Linked DNA regions of Homo sapiens. The protein of the gene in region 1 interacts with the protein of each later gene in a pairwise test. Each region holds a gene or a part of one and is shown on either strand. Other genes may lie near its edges. The genes, in order: MAIP1 and H4C7.

Region 1 (3,353 bases):
CTACTGAAAATATGAAAAAATAGCCGGGCATGGTGGTGCGTGCCTGTGGTCCCATCTACTTAGGAGGCTGAGGTGGGAGGATCGCTTGAGCCTGGGAGGCGGAAGTTGCAGTGAGCCGATACTGCGCCACTGCACCCCAGCCCGGGTGACAGAGTGAGACTCTGTGTCAAAAAAAGAGAAAGAAAAAGAAAATGCCACTAATTGAAAATAATCCATGTAGTATACTTAGTAAAGTACGTGCTCAGTTAAGTAGTAGTTTTATTACTGAGATACAGAGAAGAGGGCAAGTATGCCATAAACCCTAAGACAATTTTCTAAAAATAAAATAGTATCAATACAAGTATTTTAAGTCACATCAGAATAAGCACAAAATTTGACCTGTAACAACTGTATAACTGCTGCCAATTTCTGATTTCATTTTGTTTATATGGATGATAGATTATTTTGATTTGTATTCGTATGTGTGTATATGTTTTTTCTCTAAGGAAGGAAGTTTGTTAACATCCTGATGTGCTTTTGGTATCTAACCAGTGCCAACATCCCCAGTGAAACTTTAAGAGGAGCCAGTGTATTCCAGGTTAAGTTGGGGAATCAGAATGTGGAAACTAAACAACTTCTTAGTGCAAGCTATGAGTAAGTTTAATCAGATTTCATTGTTTCCTTTCTTCAGAAAATGGAAGGTAGTGTGAAGGTATGAAAACTAAGAGATCTTTAGGAAGAAAAGAATTGAAATTTGACAAGTTATTTATGAAGAGAAAAGGTCAGAAAGACACACTGGATATGAAACAGGAGAGTTAAGAAATTAGAAAGAGGTAAAGTTGCTGAATTTAATTAAATGATGTTTTAGCTGTCTATTGCTGCTTAACAAACTACCCCCAAATTCATTGGCTTCAAACAGCCATTGACTTTGCCTGCTATTTCACTGCTCAGAAATTTTGGATAGGCTCAGTTAGGGGGTTTTCTCTGCTTCACCTGGCATCAACACGAGTGGCAGGAGCTGGAGGATTCATTTCCACAGTGACTTCTTAACTCGCATGGGTGGCACCTTGGTACTCCTTGGCTTCTGCATGACTCTGTATTCTCCAGGGCCACTCTTTGTGGCTTGGACTTGTGGTAGTTTCAGACTAGTCATATCTTTCATATAGTGGTTGAATTCTAGGAGGCAGAAAATGGAAGCTGCTAAACCAGTAAAGGGCTATGCCCAGAATTAGAACATCAGTTCTGCCATAGTCTACTTGTCAAAGCAGTCAAAGGATCTGTATAGTTTAAAGGGTGTAGAAAGACTCCCCCATTTTTTGGGGCAAAAACCAGCAAGGCCACATAGCAGAAGAGCACATGGGAGGGGAGATATGGTTGTGGTCATTTTTGGAAAATAAAATCTGCCATAATTGGTACATGAACAATTTATTCACTAGACATCTGTTGGTCATCTGTGTGCCCACATGCTCTGGTAGAGGTTCAGATACAAAGTTGAAGGGATACTGCCCTTAAGCACATACTGTATAGTAGGAAGTTAGCAAGTTACGTAAAAGAGACATTATATTGTATTTTTATGCGAATAAAATCTAGAACAGTGAACTGCTGGAGCAAGTCAGTGAAGATATAATTTAACATTTATTAAAAAAATATGTTGCCAGAGTTACACAAATCTGCTTCAAAATAACAAACCCCAAAAATGACCTAAGAAATAAAATGTATTCTGTTTTACTAAGGTAAAAGAGAATTATATCCTCATTTTTTTTTTGCTCTTCTTAAAAGAAATGTGTTTTTTTAAATTTTGCTTTATTTGTAATTACCCAAAATATTCTATATATTTAAATACTTAATTTAAATCTACTGAATTGCCTGTTAAGAAATAATTTTTAAAGAGCACTGTCGTCAATACTAAACTTTATCTTTTCTGATGTTTCTTACTAAGACTATGGGTACTTCATAAACATTGTTATTTTCAAGATTGATTTAATGTATGTAAACTAAATTCCACTATTTATTCCTAAATTGGTAACAGTGCTATTTGAAAAATAGCTTTTTGCCTGTATCCTAGGTTATGTATTTAAAGTGCTGTTTGCATCACCAGAGTCCAGTTTATCTGTCCTCATATTAGGCATGTGTTATAGCTAGTATTTAACACATACTAGCTATATGTGTTATTTATATAACACATATATCCAAGTTTCTCTTAGGGGCTGGTAGATGTTGAATATAGATTAGTCCATTAAAAATACTTACATTACTTGAGAATGTACTTCAATTTTGTGGGTATATTTATTGTGATTGAATGGGTAGGTTAAACTTTTTTTTGTTTTGATTTTGATTTAATATTAACCATTATCTTGTTGCCAAAAATTCTTCTAAATATACACTTGCAAATTACATAGTTATCTAACACATACTTGGACTGATGTAAGATTTACATTATTTGCAATGTCTTTCCTAGGTTTCAGAGGGAGTTCACACAAGGAGTAAAGCCTGACTGGACCATTGCACGGATTGAACACTCAAAATTATTAGAATAATTTTCTTGGAAAAATCAGCTTATGGACTTTAGCAGTTGCTGTGAAAAACTAAGGAAGAAAAATTTTGGGGTCATTTGATCTTCACTTAATCTAAGTCTGTGAATTACTTTTATATTATTTTGAAATACTCCTTGCAGTATATTGGCATGATACAGTAAAAGCATTTTCCACAGATTGTTATCACCTTCTTTAAAAGAAGTCAAAATTTAAAAAATACAATAGCACGTTGTTGGTGTCATATTCAATAACATTTCCAATGCTACATATAATTTTATAGACATAATAAAGAAGGTATTGAAAAAACTACTTACAAATTTCTTTATATATTTTTTAAATTGTTTGAGAAACAGGGTCTTGCTCTGTCTCCCTGGATGAAGTCCAGTGGCATGATCATAGTTCACTGTAACGTCGAGCTCCTGGGCTTGAGCGATCCCCCTGCCTCAGCCTTCAGAGTAGCTGGGACTACAGGCATCCACCAGCATGGCTGGCTAATTTTAAAAAATTTTTATAGAGATTTCACTATGTTGCCCAGCTGGTCTTGAACTCCTCAAGTGGTTCTGCCTCGGCCTCCCAAAGAGCTAGGATTATAGGCATGAGCCACTGCACCCAGCCTACTTACACATTTCTAAATTAATAGTTCTTAAATATTTTATTTGTGGCTAATACATTTACACTTTTTTTTTTGACGGAGTCTCCCTCTGTTGCCCAGGCTGGAGTATAGTGGTATGATCTCAGTTCACTGCAACCTCCACCTCCTGGGTTGAAGCAATTCTCCTGCCTCAGCCTCCCTTGTAGCTGGGACTACAGGTGTGCACCACCATGCCCAGCTAATTTTTT
Region 2 (2,451 bases), on another chromosome or scaffold:
ATAAGTGAAAGCACACTGAATGTATTGGTGTTGCAAAGGCAATGTTTTAAAATCCTTCGGTGTGCTTTACCTCTGCATTATTATTTTGTCTGTAAAAAAAGGCTGTGGCAATAAGAATTCGTTTACCAACTGGCCGGTGAGGTGGCTCACGCCTGTAATCCCAGCACTTTGGGAGGCCAAGGCGGGCGGATCACCTGAGGGCAGGAGTTGGAGACCAGCCTGGCCAACGTGAAATCTGGTCTCTACTAAAATACAAAAATGAGCCGGGAGTGGTGGCACATACCTGTAATTCCAGCTACTTGGGAGGCCGAGGTAGGAGAATAGCTTGAACCCAGAAGGTGGAGGTTGCAGTGGGCAGAGATTGCGCCATTGCACTCCAGCCTGGGCAACAAGAGCGAAACTCCGTATTTTAAAAAAAAATCATTTACTAACTATATGCCAGTGTTTTGCTTAAAGTAACTCAATTATTAACAAGTATTTACCCTTTTTACAGATAGGGCCATTGAAACTCAGATTAACATGTCTAATATCGGTGAGAGAGCAGTCACTCACAGATTCGAAACCAAAAACCAGGCTACTTCTCTTTAGCTGGGCGGCTTGGCAATATGATTAGGAATTCTTTTATGTCTTGGAATTTGGGCTTGTTTCAACTTCAGCATGGTAAATGCTCTAATATACAGGGAAGGAGTAAATCTTTTTTTTTTCTTTTTTGAGACGGGCTTCGCCCTTGCCCAGGCTAGAGTGCAGTGACGTGATCTCGGCTCACTGCAGGCTCCACCCCACGGGGTTCATGCCATTCTTCTGCCTCAGCCTCCTGCATAGCTGGGACTACAGGCGCCCGCCACCTCGCCCTGCTAATTTTTTGTATTTTTATTAGAGACAGGGTTTCACCGTGTTAGCCAGGATGGTCTCGATCTCCTGAGCTCGTGATCCGCCCGCCTCGGCCTCCAAAAGTGCTGGGATTACAGGCGTGAGCCACCGCGCCCGGCCAGGAGTAAATCTTTAAACACATACAGACATCAAAAATCGAGATACTTTCCTCTAGGTACATGTTTGACACTTTCGTTTAGAGATCCTTATTCTCTAAATGCCAGCAAATCTCCCTACTACAAGAGAATTTCTTATGTCTTGTTATTACTAGAAGTAGATGAGCGGGGACTGAATACGTTTTCCCGCCTTTCCTGGTCTTTCAGTTTTCAAAAAGGTCTACTCTACCGTTATATAAAAGGCTGCGGAAAGCGAGTAATCGTTTTGTTTAGAGATAGTTCTGACTTGTTTATCATGTCTGTTCGGGGCAAGGCCGGAAAAGGCCTTGGGAAAGGCGGTGCCAAGTGCCATCGCAAGGTACTGAGCGATAATATTCAGGGCATTACCAAGTGCACTATCCGGCGCTTGGCCCGGCATGGCGGTGTCAAGCGCATCTTGGGCCTCATTTATGAGGAGACCCGCCGGGTGTTCAAGGTGTTCCTGGAAAATGTGATCTGGTACGCCGTGACCAACACGGAGCACGCCAAGCGCAAGACGGTCACCGCCATGGCCGTGGTCTACGTGCTCAAACGCCAGGGAAGAACCCTGTAAGGCTTTGGCGGTTAAGTGAGGCCAGGCCTTTCCTTGCAATATCGTTAATGGCCCTTTTCAGGGCCGCGTACGTTTTCTTCCGAAGGGCTCACGTTTGACATTGTGGAAACTTAACTAACGCACTCAGCAATATTGTGTGTTTTATTGCTGTAGGTGCCCAAAAGCTGTTAGGTGTATAATGCTGTAAAGTATAAATTTACGCCAAGGCTGACATACAACATGGAATACAGGTGGTAAGTTAATCGTGTGTTCAGAGATTAGAAATCTGGTGGGCTGGCTGAGGACATCAACGGCTACATTGTCACTTAAAAGCTCTCAAAATGTGGTTATGGTAGTGTGTTTTTCTCCTTACTGTTAGGATTACCCTCCGTAATTAAAATTGTAGTTTTAGTGCCAAGATAACCCGACTTTTATATTCTGCTTAATAAGCAATTTCAATAACCAGAGAATACACAATAATTAGCACAAACTTGCCAGGTGCCGTTCTGACAAATGTGTCTGCAGTGGAGGGACTGGCCCCCTTGCTAGTTCAATGATCTAATTTAGCAGCACTAAAAGAAGTTTACCTGTTTCGTGCCTTTGCTTGTGATCCATCGTAAATATAGAAACACCTTGATAAGGTGTAACTGCAATAATTCGTGTCTCAATTTACTGTTTATGAAAGTACAGGGGTCAAAGAGCCAATTAAACATCTCAAGAGGGGGAAAAAACCTTCCAGAATGTGGAACATTTGGGACAATTGCTTTGTTCAAAAAGCCACCGAGAAAAACTGGAGGACTTTAAGTTTGAAGGAGATTAAAGTAACATAGCAACTAAATGTATTAATTGCATTCTGTCTCTAAAGTTTTAAAGGGCATTTTGGAGATAATCAAG

Evidence for each region.
Region 2: the proteins of MAIP1 (region 1) and H4C7 interact in binary tests that used the Homo sapiens proteins (3 or more experiments, as listed by UniProt).

Annotation. Positions count from the first base shown.
Region 1 is NC_000002.12:199,961,296-199,964,648, forward strand, and holds the end of MAIP1 (m-AAA protease-interacting protein 1, mitochondrial isoform 1 precursor), read left to right. Parts: intron 1-485; coding exon 486-633; intron 634-670; exon of another isoform or gene 671-812; intron 813-2,437; coding exon 2,438-2,516; 3' UTR 2,517-2,822; downstream 2,823-3,353. UniProt on the Homo sapiens protein: Promotes sorting of SMDT1/EMRE in mitochondria by ensuring its maturation.
Region 2 is NC_000006.12:26,245,808-26,248,258, reverse strand, and holds H4C7 (histone H4-like protein type G), read left to right. Parts: upstream 1-1,262; 5' UTR 1,263-1,281; coding exon 1,282-1,578; 3' UTR 1,579-1,648; downstream 1,649-2,451. UniProt on the Homo sapiens protein: Core component of nucleosome. Nucleosomes wrap and compact DNA into chromatin, limiting DNA accessibility to the cellular machineries which require DNA as a template.